Linked DNA regions of Homo sapiens: regions 1 and 3 are each linked to region 2. The links come from fine-mapping of genetic effects on gene expression. A gene starts in region 2. Each other region holds a variant in brackets. All regions are shown on one strand. Distances are from middle to middle.

The links. PIP is the estimated chance that this variant, and not a neighbour inherited with it, causes the effect.
Region 1: its variant is the best candidate, but not a certain one, in a credible set for the expression of LINC02944 in prefrontal cortex (ROSMAP, PIP 0.76).
Region 3: its variant is the best candidate, but not a certain one, in a credible set for the expression of LINC02944 in hippocampus (GTEx, PIP 0.69).

What each region holds. Positions count from the first base shown.
Region 1 is chr10:118,274,259-118,278,501 of GRCh38, reverse strand. No RefSeq gene overlaps it. Among named protein-coding and RNA genes, the nearest start is that of LINC02944, 35 kb to the right of the region's middle. The variant G/C (reference allele first, on the strand shown) is at 2,256.
Region 2 is chr10:118,239,102-118,243,344 of GRCh38, reverse strand. It overlaps LINC02944 (long intergenic non-protein coding RNA 2944), which reads right to left and starts at 1,840. Exons shown (of 5, transcript XR_946349.3): 1 at 1,663-1,840; 2 at 1,459-1,562.
Region 3 is chr10:118,281,928-118,286,170 of GRCh38, reverse strand. No RefSeq gene overlaps it. Among named protein-coding and RNA genes, the nearest start is that of LINC02944, 43 kb to the right of the region's middle. RefSeq lists enhancers at 1-270, 271-772. The variant T/G (reference allele first, on the strand shown) is at 2,503.

The DNA of each region.
Region 1 (4,243 bases), 35 kb before region 2:
AGGTATGGGAAGGGTGAGGTGCAAAACTACAGAAAGCCTCTGGCGTGGATTTTCCTTGAATTTCTTTCTGTCTCCCACAGCCCACTGGGACACCTCAGAACCCCACTGGGATGCACACTTGGGCATCTCTCTGCATACCTGTGGGTGGCAGTGAACACATGAGTGTCTGGTTTATAAAGCCACCCCTGCTGATTCTGGCCCTGCTCCTCCACCTCTAAATGTGCAAAGCCCAATGTATCTATTGCTATTACCTTGATGGTTCTGGCTCAGGGTCTGTCATCAGGTTGCAATCAAAATGTTGACTGGGGCTGCAGCCATCTGAAGGCTTGACTGGGGCTGGAGGATCCACTTTCAAGGTGGCTTAGCCACATGGATAGTAAATTAACTCTGGTTATTTGTAGGCAGTTTCGGTTCCTCCCTACATGGGCCACTCCACAGTGCTGCTTGAGTCTCCTCACAGCATGGCAGCTGGCAAGTGAACCAAAGTAAGTGATCCCAGAGAGCACAAGGTGGAAGCTGCAGTGACTTTGCAACCTACCCTCAGAAGTCACACCCCATCATTTCCTCAATGTGCTATTGGTTGCATAGTAGCCCTATTCAGTGTGGAAGGAACTATGCAAGCGCAGGAATGACAGGAGATGAGAAACACTGGGGGCCATATTGGAGGCTGGCTACTAAGTGATACAGTTTGGATATTTGTCCCTGGTTAAAACTCTTGTTGAATTGTAATCCCCAGTGCTGGACATGGGGCCTGGTGGGAGGTATCTGGATCATGGGGGTGAATCCCTCATAGCTTGGTGCTGTCTTTGTGATAGTGAGTTCTTATGAGATCTAGTCATTTAAAAGTGTGTGGCACCTCCTCTCTCTTTCTCTTGCTCTGCTTCCATCATGTGATGTGCCTGCTCCCCCTTCACCTTTCACCATGATTGTAAGCTTCCTGAGGCCTCCCCAGAAGCCAAGCAGATGTTAGCACCACGCTTCCCGTACAGACTGCAGAATGTGAGCCCCAATAAACCTCTTTTCTTTATAAATTACTCAGTCTCAGGTTTTTCTTTATAGCAATGCAAGAATGGCCTAGTAAACTTAGGGTATGAGATACTTGCCTAGTGTAAGAATTTTTTGAGTAAACAATAGTTGCTAACACATATCCTGTATTTGCTATGTGCCTGTTGAAAGTGCTTACATGTGTTAATTTATTCAATCTTTCCAACAACCCTGTGAGGTAGGTATTACTATCCTCATTTTATATATGAGGAAACTGAGGTACCAAGAGTTTAAGTAAGTTTCCTAACATTATTTACTTAGTATATAGAAAACCCAGGACTGAAACTTAGGTAGACTGACTTTGGAAGCCACACTTGTAAGCCCTGTATATCCTGCCTTTTGGCCATATTAAACTCTGCCACCATGGCTTGGTTTGCAATTGTTTTGTGGGGGTGGGAAAGGAAATATCAAGGATAGAAGAGAGCCAAGGTCTTGTTTGCAACTGTGAATAGCACATGTAAGAGTCCAGTAAGATTATGATCTACATAATGACGCTTGTTGTACATCCCTCTAATGACAGCTGGCTCCCTGGCTCCCATCAATGTGCAGTAACATCCTCAGGATGACTTCTGACAGTGTGCATATGCCATGACCAGGCCGCTGGAACATCTTCACACCTCCCTGGAATAGAATGCAATTACATTTTCCCTTTAAATAAACTTTTCAAGCCAATCTATTAAATGGTTATCTGCTGTCTGCTCCAGGGAGTGCAGGCAGATGGAGAGCTGGGCTGGGGTAGACCAGTTGTAAATTCATACACACATACACACACACACACACACACACACACACACTTGAAGTCCTGCACGAGGTCACCTACAAGGTCAGGCCACCTCTTCCTGGGACCTTGCTCAGGTTTTGGTGTCTCAGAAGATGCTGCATTACCAACCTTTGAGGAGAAAACCAAATGGGCTTGTCACAAAGAAATACAAAGTGTGACTCAGAGCAGGGAGCAAGTGTGGAGGGAAGGGCCTGGAGAGGACAGTGAGTGGGAGAGCTGCCATTTGGGCTGGTCTGGCTTCAGAACCCTGCTTTGCTTTCTCTCCTTTTGGCTCAGGAGATGATTGCACATGTGGCTCACAGCTGACTCTTGCAGGATCTCAGATAAATGATGAGAAGACAGGTAACACCTGGGCAACTTTTTCTCATTCTGTGTGGATAGAGGTTGGGGCCAGATGGCCTCTCTCCTCCTCCCCCATTATTTATGGAAG[G/C]CTTCACTTACTTTCCAACAGGAAGAAGCAGGAAACACTGGGATTATGTGTTCAGGGACAGAAAACAGTGTGTACAAGCACGCGGGTTCTGGTAAGCCAATGAGTGTAGACATGGTTACTGCCCCCCAGTCGCCACTCTCTTCCAAAAGCCCTCGGCTTGGGTCTGATTAAGGACTCTTTGAAGGTCATCATAACAGATAACACTCCCACAGCATTTTCTCTGAGCCAGGCGCTCTTCTTAGGGCAACACACAGCAATCTTTTGAGGAAGGTGTGCTACTATTCCCATTTTACAGGTAAGGAAACTGAGGCACAGAGAGATTAAGAAACCTGCCCACGTGTATCCAGCTATGTAAGTGAAAGAACCCAACATGTGGATCTAGAGTCCATGCTGATAACCTCCACTCTCCAACACTCTGCAGAGCAGAAGGACCCTTGCGGTCATCTCACTCAGCGTTTCTCCAAGGCCACTCTCTTCTAAACCACCTTCATAATCTCTGCAATATCTGTAGTTCCACCTCTAATGTTATTTACTTAAATTTTTTCTTTTAATAATTCACTATGTTTACTTGAATTCATTTGTTTTAAAAGGAGTCTTGATATTCCTGCTAGAAATGAAAAATCAGCATTTGCCATAAATAGAAAGGAAAAGTCAAAACAAATTCAGTGAGAATAAGGCTATTAAATGTTTTCTAGATCCTGCTGCTCACCAATGTCCCAAAGCCCTGGGCTCCTAGAAGGAGGGATGAAAGAGAACAGAAAGGGGCATCGCACTTGCAGACTTGATTCCATGGTGTCCTGCGCTCTCTCTGGGACTTTGCAACTGCCTTGCTTGCCTCTGACGTTGTGAGGAAGCTGGGTGAGGCCAGTGCTCTCTTCTCATCACCAAGAAAACAGGCTCAGAGAGGGGAACTGCTATGCCCAAGAGCATGCTAGTGGCCAAGCCAAGACCAGTACTCAGGGCCCTGACTCCCAAGCCTTATTGTCCCCCACACCCATTTGTAGACATTTTCACACAGGCCTCACCTACAAGGTTACTCCTTGTAGGGTTAACTGGTCCCCTACATCTTGACTCTGGCTCGGCCACCTCAGCTTGCCCTTGGGATCCCACATTTCCAGAGTAATTATAAGCCCCTGCTGTCCCGGCTGTCACCACCCATTCTGCAGATAGCCCCCGGCCACGTGTGATGGGAGTGGGGCACTGACCTTGAAATCAGGACCTCTCGACACTGCAGAGGCTGCCTCTCACTGTGGCCTGAGGCAATTAGCTTCTTCCAATCTGCCAACCCATCTATAAATTGAGGCTGATTGCGCTTTTTCTGCATACTGCTGAGGGTTGGTGTTAGAATCCAGGTGAGGTCATCGATTTGAAAATGCTTGGGTAATAAACATGCCCTAAGAATGCAAGTTCTTATTCACTCTGACACTCAGTTATCTGGCATCCACAAGTGATGAGACCCATGAAGGAAGGAAAAAGGCATTTGGATAGACAAAGTAGATATATCCAAGTTGATCCATGCATTCCTGGGGCATCTTATCCTGCCACGTTGTGTGCCAGGTGCTGGCTGGGTGTAAGGAATACAACTAGGATCCCCTGTGGCCTCCCACTTGGAAAGATTCACAACATGTAAAACACAAATGCAGCGTATAAAAGTGACGTGCTTCTTCATGGTACACCCTAGCCAGACCCAAATCTAACAGGTTTGGTCATCTGTTTTTCTAAATCACATGACTTCACAGCTAACACATGAGGAGGAGGAAGAGGCTGTTTCTGGGGCAAGGCAAAACTGCCCTGCTAGAGAAGATGGCTGACTTGGAGGAAAGAGATAAGTAAACAAAGAGTCTGGACTTTGTGCATTGAAGTCTGGGGTCATTTAGTGGAGGGGCACAAAACTCCCACAAAAACTTGCAAACTTCATAGGCTCCGAGGTTTGCAGCTTTTCAGATTATAGTAACAAATAACCCATATTCATAACGATCTCCTGAATC
Region 2 (4,243 bases):
TTGATCAAAATCTCACCCTTCTGCTTTGTTGAGGACAGAGCACTTTTACATGTTATTTATTTTTATTTTTAGGTATATTTGTAGTGACGACATGTTGGCTTGTGGGAAAATAGTTTGCATTAGTCCTCAGCTGAGCTTCCCATACGCACAGGGGACTCAATATATAGAAAACAAGAAAGCCCGGAAAATGCCAATGGCTAGAGACTGGAATTCTGCAAATTTTATTTTTCTCCACTCTCACAGTAAAGACAGGATTTGTAGTAAGGCACAATACTGCCAAAATTAGTCTGATTTTCTTTTTAACAATAACATCAGCTAATAGGTAAATATTCTAGAAAATGTAGTCATTTTGAACATTTGAGATTAAGAAAAGCAGAAAATCTGGAATATTTTTGTAGACATCTAGATATATAGGCAACGACAGAGACCCAAGACCGTAAATCCGGTTTATTTTTACATATTAGCATTAAAATATCTGTCTTGCTTTCAGACAATGAGTTTTTAAAAATTAAGAATAGTGCATCAAAATGATGAAAAATTTTAGGATTTTTTGATATGTAACTTAACCCACAGAAAACCAGATTATTCATCTTGCTACTTGTTTATAGCCCTTTTTAAAAAATGAATATTTCAGACACCTTAAATTGATAAATGTTTCTCTGAAAATAAATCGCTCTTTGATAAAGAGAGTGGAACATAAATGTTTGAGATGTAGCTGAAGCTCTATCACCATTTATGGATCACGATTATAGTTCAAAACGCAAAAGCTGGTATCTTTTGAGGTCGAGCATTTTATACTGAAAGCATATATTTATAATGGAAGTTAACCTTAACATGAAGAGGAAATGATGTTATAGGATTTTCTATTTTGGAACTAATAAGCTATATCATTTCTTATTTGATGGTCTTAAGAAGCAGTTAACATGACTTGAAAGCAACATTTTTCAAGTACTGTAAACATGCTACCATGGAAAACCAGAGAGGAAAAATTTTCCTGTCTGTGAGATTCCTAAACAACTTAATTTGAGTTGTTTACTCTCAAATACTGAATGTTCTTCCCACTGTTCCGCTGTAGTCCGACACAGTGTATTTAATGATTTTTTGTGAAATTTACAACCTAGTGACTTATCATCTTACTTTGAATTGTCTTGAAGATACTTAATGCTGATACTTAACACACACACACAAAAAAACCCCAAACTCTTAGAGTCCTCACTCTGTTTTGAACTAATTAACTTTACAGGAACAAACCTGGAGATACTTATTTTTTCCACTACTACTTTTGGATTTATTATTTCTTTTTATTATAGTAGTCCGAGGTTAGAAAGCTAAAAATTAAAATGGTTGATAATTGTGAAATATATTGTTATTCATGGCAAAATATCACGATTATGCATATGTGTAAGAATTAAGATGTCTTAGGAACTAGCACGGAGTGAGCTGGATGAAATGCGGCACCTGCCACAGAATCTTTCCCCTGTGCTTTTCGGTAATGCCAGGCAAGTCCTCCGGGTTGTAGAAGTCATGGCCAGGTCATGGATTTCCGCACACAGCGATGGCTTCTGTGGGACAAAAAGCAGTGAATATCACGCTACTTACCTTGCTTTATACCACAACCGTTGCAGGCAAGGGTGTCTCCGATGGCGTCTTGGTTTTGCTTACCTGTGTTCCAAAAGAAATCTTTTCCCTGACCAGTTAACTTCTTGGTTGTTCCTTAAGACACAGGGATTTTGGGAAAGACTGTGGCATGCTTTCCTCAGTGGTTCTTCTCAGTTTAATGCCTTAAAGATGGACAAATGTTCACTGGCTGCCCGATAGGCACTGAAATTCGGAGCAATCCAACTTGTTCCAAAAGCGTTTCCCACGGCATATGCACAGTTTCACGGATGGCCACTAGATGGCGTGTGACAACCATTTGTGTCAGCCACACGCAAAGGCTTCCCATTCATTCTCCATAAAGGTATCAAAGGCGTCCTCCAGCAATTCCTCCAAGACAACTTCACTATTACGTTGTTTTCATTTCGATCCTTAAATGGTACCGGTTTACGTTTTGGAAGTAGGGGGACATTTTCAGTGGACGAGCCTAAATCAGAATGTGTGCTGTTGTATTTACGCATCACCGTTAATAAACATTAGCACTTAAAGCTGAATTAAGGCACATCGTTAAATGTCAGTGTGTATCTACCCACTTATCTACGAATGTTTCAACAAACATCTATTAAGTGTCTACTACTATGTGCGAAATGTGACTCGTTCTTCTAAAATACTGAAAGGACGTTTTATTACCAGAAAGTAATACAAGTATCAGAAAATAAAGACATTTTACGTTGCACAGTTGGGTCATTGATATAATGTTAAAATTAAATACATTAGCTCTTTCTTAGCTGAGGTTTTGTTTTCTGTGGTTTCATTTACCTGTGGTCAGTTGTGGCCCCAAAAAATTAAATGGAAAATTTCAGAAATAATTCATAAGTTTTAAATTGCATGCCATTCTCAGTTGCATGCTGAAATCTCTCATCCTCTGTCCCACCTGGGAGGGGAATCTTCTCTTTGTCCAGCATATCCACACTGTCTAAGCTACCTTCCTGTCAGTCACACGGTAGCCATCTCAGTTATCACATAGACTGTCACCGTTTCCCAGTGCTTGTGTTCAAGTAACCCTCATTTTGTTATATAATGGCCTCAAAGCATGAGAGTAATGATGCTGGCAATTTGCATATGCCAAAAAAGAAGCCATAAAATGCATCCTTGAAGTGAAAAGGTGAAAGTTATCAGCTTAATAAGGAAAGAAAAAAATTGTATGCTGACATCTTTAAGATCTACAGTAAGAAGGAAACTTCTACCCACGAATTGTGATCAATTAGTTGTAAACACCACTGCACTTGGACCAGCTTACCCATGAATGGTAAGGAAAAAAAGAAATTCATGCATAGTATATGTAGGGTTTGGTACTATTGCAGTTTCAGGCATCCACTGGGGTCTTGGAAGAATGTATCCCCCATAGATAAGGGGGGAAGTTGTATGCTCCTGGAATTTCAGAAGCTTCTCCTTTTTTTTTTTTTTGAGACAGAGTTTCGCTCTTTTTGCCCAGGCTGGAGTGCAATGGCACGATCTTGGCTCACTGCAACCTCCGCCTCCCAGGTTCAAGAGATTCTCCTGCCTCAGCCCCCTGAGTAGCTGTGATTACAGGCATGTGCCACAAAGCCCGGCTATTTTTGTGTTTTTAATAGAGACGGGGTTTCTCCATGTTGGTCAGGCTGGTCTTGAACTCCTAACCTCAGGTGATCCGCCCACCTTGGCCTCCCAAAGTGCTGGGATTACAGGCGTGAGCCACTGCACCCGGCCCAGAAGCTTCTTTTCTTGATATAGAATAAATCTGAATGTCAGGGGGAAAAATCACATGAAACACCTTGCAAATTATCTTTCCCCTTATAGCAAAATATGATTCTCCTTGCCTTAAAGAATGTAAATTCCTATAAAGAAAATAAATTAATAAAACATACAAGTCCTATAGTGGAATCACTTTTTCTTTCATGTCCATTGTCACCGAGTATAGAAATGAGGTATTTTATTACATAATTTTTACAAATCCGTATTAAGACAAACCTTAATAGGAATGACTTTATCACAAAGTGTTCAGAAAGACATGAGAAAACATCCCCAAAAGTTAGTTCCATATCTGTGGAGAAAATGAAGCAATCTCTAAGATCATTTCCACTTTTAAAAGTCAGCGGTTTTAAAAAAACTAGTGGCATTTGAGTTATTTCACCCTTCTCAAAATAGGTGTGATATTTCTTCTAAGCCAATCTCTAACTGAAAGAAAAGAATGGTCTCATTTTTAGAATTACTGGCTGTTTGTTTGAACTGAAGAATTAGTTGCATTTCAAAATAAGGACATGCCTAATGAAATGATTAAAACATACAGAACATTAAATTATAAGCAGATGGGGGTGAAACCAAGGGAGGGGGGAGGTGAGTTTGCTGGAAACCTGAAGTCCAGGGAAGCTGACAGCTTTGGGTTTTCCTCAATAACACAGAAGATGATTGTTTAAGCAACAGAGGGTAAGAAAACAACCTTTGGAAGACAATCTCTCTCTCTCTCTCTCTCTCTCTCTCTCTCTCTCCTGTCTCTTTTTTGATAGGCAGCACCTTACAAGAAAAGCCAGAAAAGAAAACCCGTGTGTATTGTAAGAGTTTAAAGAGACAGCCACTCCAAAAGAAAATGGACATTCACATTGACGCC
Region 3 (4,243 bases), 43 kb before region 2:
GCTTCCTGTTAAAGAGTAGGAATAGGATCTCAAGATTGCAAAGGTTTCTAGAACCTGGTCAGAGCTGACTCTGCTCAGTGCGTGTTGTTACAGCGAGGGCATGTACTTCCCTCCACTTAGGCCCGAGAGCTGTGTGTACCTCTGACTTCATGGTGTTTGCTTGCCTGTGACCCAGAAGATAGCATCATGTCATGGACCTGAAACCCCAGAAAGTACAGCATGGTGCAAAGATGACTGTGCAGGTGTCTGCAGGTGACCCTGATTCTCACTGGGGCTCCCTGGGCCGATGCCAAGGCTGTGGGCCACTTAGAATGGCTCTGTCCTCTGGCCTCAAAGCTCTTGGATGCACTTCCTGGGACACTACATGGAATGGGTTGGGAGAACCAGATCCCCTCTGGATGGGGGGGAAGGCAGTTGAGGGACAACAGCAGCTTTCTGGGTCAAGAGTCTGCCCACCAGCCTTGGAGAGAGCAGCCCCAGCCTCCAGACCGTAAGGGCTGCCCCTGTGGGTTAGGGAGATCCAGGGTGTGAGTCTCTCTTGGGAAAGGCTTCCTTCCCAGAGAGGTTTTCCTAGTTTACCTATTCTGTGCTTGGATGTCTGATATGGTTTGGCTTTGTGTCCCCACCCAAATCTCATCTTGAATTACAATCTCCAGGTATTGAGGGAGGATCCTGGTGAGAGGTGATTGGATCATGGGGGCAGTTTCCTCCGTGCTGTTCTCATGATAGTAAGTGAGTTCTGATGAGATCTGATGGTTTTACAAGTATGTGGCAAGTTCCTCCTACACTCAGTCTTCCCTCTCCTACTGCCATGCGAAGAAGGTTCTCGCTCCCCCTTTGCCTTCTGCCATGATTGTAGGTTTCCTGAGGCCTCCCCAGCCATGCAGAACTGTGAGTCAAACCTCTTTCCTTTATAAATTACCCAGTTTTGGGAAGCTTTTTATAGCAATGTGAAAATGGACTAATACAATGCCCAACTCACTGCCTTCAGCCCAGATCTCACTCTTCTGAGCTCAGACCCTGCTATCCCATTGCCTGCTGAGCATCTCTTTACTCTCCTTCTTAATGAGAGGTCCAGGAATCACAGGATTTAGCTAACTCCAACTCAACCTTTAGGCCTCACATTAGATGTCCCTTCCCCCAGGAAGCCTTCCCTGACTCTCTCTATCCTGACAGGGTGCCCCTCTCCTATGCACCACGTGGGCCTGTACCTCCTCTATCACAAAGCTTAGCATGTTCTGCTGTGAGTCCTTGCACTATGTCTCCTCCACTGGGCTGCAAGCTCCATGAAGGCAGGACTGCACCTCTGTTTTGTTCATGGCTGTGTCTCCAGCACCTGGTTGGAGGCAGGGTGCCAAGGCAGTGCTCTGTAAATGTGTGTCCAAAGTGTCACTGAAGGGATTACTACACCATCCAAGTCCGCACACAGGTGAGTTTGAAGTGTGACTGTTAATGGTAGTGCTTAACTCACAGGCTGGCTTCAAAGCCACTTCCAAAAGAGAAACTTGTAAGATGGTTGAGCCACAAAATTGAATAAACCTCCCAAGCTAATTGGGTCTCTGAGTGCGATTGCGCTCCTTTGAATAAATATGCTTTAATACGATAGTTTAAAAACAAAAACAAAGGGGTCTTGCTGAATTAGCCAAACCTCACACAACGACAACTCATGAAACACCAGGGCGGTTTTTTTCCCTGCATGAAACACCAGGGCAGTTTTATTCTGCATTTTTTTCTGTAGTTGCCTCTTCTTGCTTTATCCAAAAGCCAGAGAAATAAAGAGGTACGTGACAGATTTGCCATTGAGCAACTCTTTGCTTTTATCAATCCTGAGGTGGGTTTTTTTTTGTTTTTTTGTTTTTTGTTTTTTTCAGAAAAAACAAGGGAAGGAAAACAACCTTGGGAATGAATTACAAAGTATTCTCTCTAGGTGCCACATATATGAAAAAACAAAGGGGACTGGGTGGGGATAGAGAAACCGGAACAAATATCTGCTGAATACCTACTATGTGCAAGGCAGTCTAAGCACCTACCAAGTGCTGTTCTAGACATTCTTTTTTTCTTTTTTGAAACAGAGTCTCACTCTGTCGCCCAGGCTGGAATGCAATGGCAGGATCTCGACTCACTGCAACTTCCGCCTCCTGGTTGAGGCGATTCTCCTGCCTCAGCCTCCCAAGTAGCTGGGATTACAGGCATGTGCCACCATGCCCAGCTAATTTTGTATTTTTAGTAGAGACGGGGTTTCATGGTGTTGGCCAGGGTGGTCTTGAACTCCTGACCTCAGGTGATCTACCCGCCTCAGCCTCCCAAAGTGCTAAGATTACAGGCATGAGCCACCGTGACCGGCCTAGACGTTTAAAGTATCTAATTGCTTTAGTGTTTGCAATAAGTCTGTGAGGTAGGTATTTTTATCCTGTTTTATAGACAGGTGAGCTGAGAGGCTGAGATGTCAGGGAGAAGGGGAGCAACAGAGGTTAAGTTACAGAATAGCACATGGTTGGGGGC[T/G]GGGGTGCTAGGATCAGACCGCAGACTCTTCAGATTCCAAGGTCATGCTTTCTCCACCATATTGCAGAAATTTTCAACCCTGATGACTGAAGCCGACTAGAGGTCTGCAAATTCGAGTTTGAATACCCAAGATTTGATGTAAGACAAGCAAACTTTGATTGGTGGTCAGAAATTACTGTCAAAGAAAGGGTTTTCCTCCTGTCGCCCCCCTTGTATGATTTATGTGAGTTTTGTTGCCTGTCACATTGGGGTTAAAACAGTCCCTAGCTGTTCTGGTACCACGGATCAAGGACGTGGGTCCCAAGTCACCCACTGCATATGGTCAAGCATTTGGGAATCAGGGATTCCTTTAAGAATCTGAAAAAAAAATGTATAGTCTCTCTTTAAAAATAAAATGCACAAAAACTTATATACAATTTAAGGAAGACCAGAAAGCCTTGGAGTTTGGGGAGTTATTCCCAAAACTCTAGGTCAAGAACCCTGAACTGGATGCTAGACTCTTCAATGACAATCTTGCTCCGTGTGTGTGTGTGCGTGTGTGTGTGTGGTGTGGTGTGGTGTGCGCGGTGTGTGGTGTGTGTGTGTGGTGTGTTTGGGGTGTGTGTGGTGTACAGTGTGTCTGCTGTGTGTGTGGTGTGGTGTGTGGTGTATGTGGTGTGTGTGTGTATGTGTGGTGTACAGTGTGTATGGTGTGTGGTGTATGTGTGGTGTGGTGTGTGGTATACAGTGTGTGTGGTGTGTGGTGTGTGTGATATGTGGTGTGTGGGGGGGGTGGTTGTGTGTGTGGTGTACGGTGTGTGTGTGCATGGTGTGTGTAGTGTGTGTGGTGTGTAGTGTGTGGTGTGTGTTTGGTGTGTGGTGTGTGTGGTGTGTGGTGTGTGTGGTGTGTGTGGTGTGTGGTGTGTGTGTTCAGTGTGTGTGGTGTGTGGTGTGTGTGGTGTGTGTGGTGTGTGGTGTGTGTGTTCAGTGTGTGTGGTGTGTGTGTGCAGTGTGTGCAGTGTGTGTGGTGTGTGTGTGCAGTGTGTGTGTGGTGGGTGCAGTGTGTGTGGTGGGTACAGTGTGTGTGTGTAATTACAGTAAATACTCATTTAACATCATCAATAGATTCTTGAAAATGAAAACTTCAAGTGAAACAACATATAACAAAACCATTTTTTTCTCACCAACATTACAATAAAAACAAGAAACAATGTTATTTGAAGATCTACTCTATATAGTTTTCCTTAAAGTTGCAGTTTCCAACAACCTATTGACAATGTGAAGCGAGGACTTACTGTGTACATATGGTGGAGCACGAGGCAGAGAGAAGTAGAAAAATAAAAGTTAATCATAGTCTTCCAGAGTCTATTCTATAGCTAGAAATGAGCACTAGGCTTAGAGCTATTTGCATGTGTCTCCTCCGGTACTGCAGCCTCCTTGCAGGTTAGCCCTTCCCTGCCTGCAGCATTTGGCTTAGGGCCTCCCAACCTGCAGGTGCTTTTGGTAGGTATTTGTTGATGAATTAACTGATATTTTTGCAATTATTCAACCCCTTATCCAATCTTATATCTAACCAATAGCAGATTACCCTGCATGAGCACAGATTACCCTGTAACGTCATGTCCTGGATTCTGGTCCCTGTGCTGCTGCTAATCAGACGGTGGCACCTTGGTCAAGTCACTCCTGCTCTCTGGGCCTCATTTATTCATTTTGACTGGCCCTTGCTATGCACCAGAGGCAGAGCTGGGAAGTCACTGGGGTT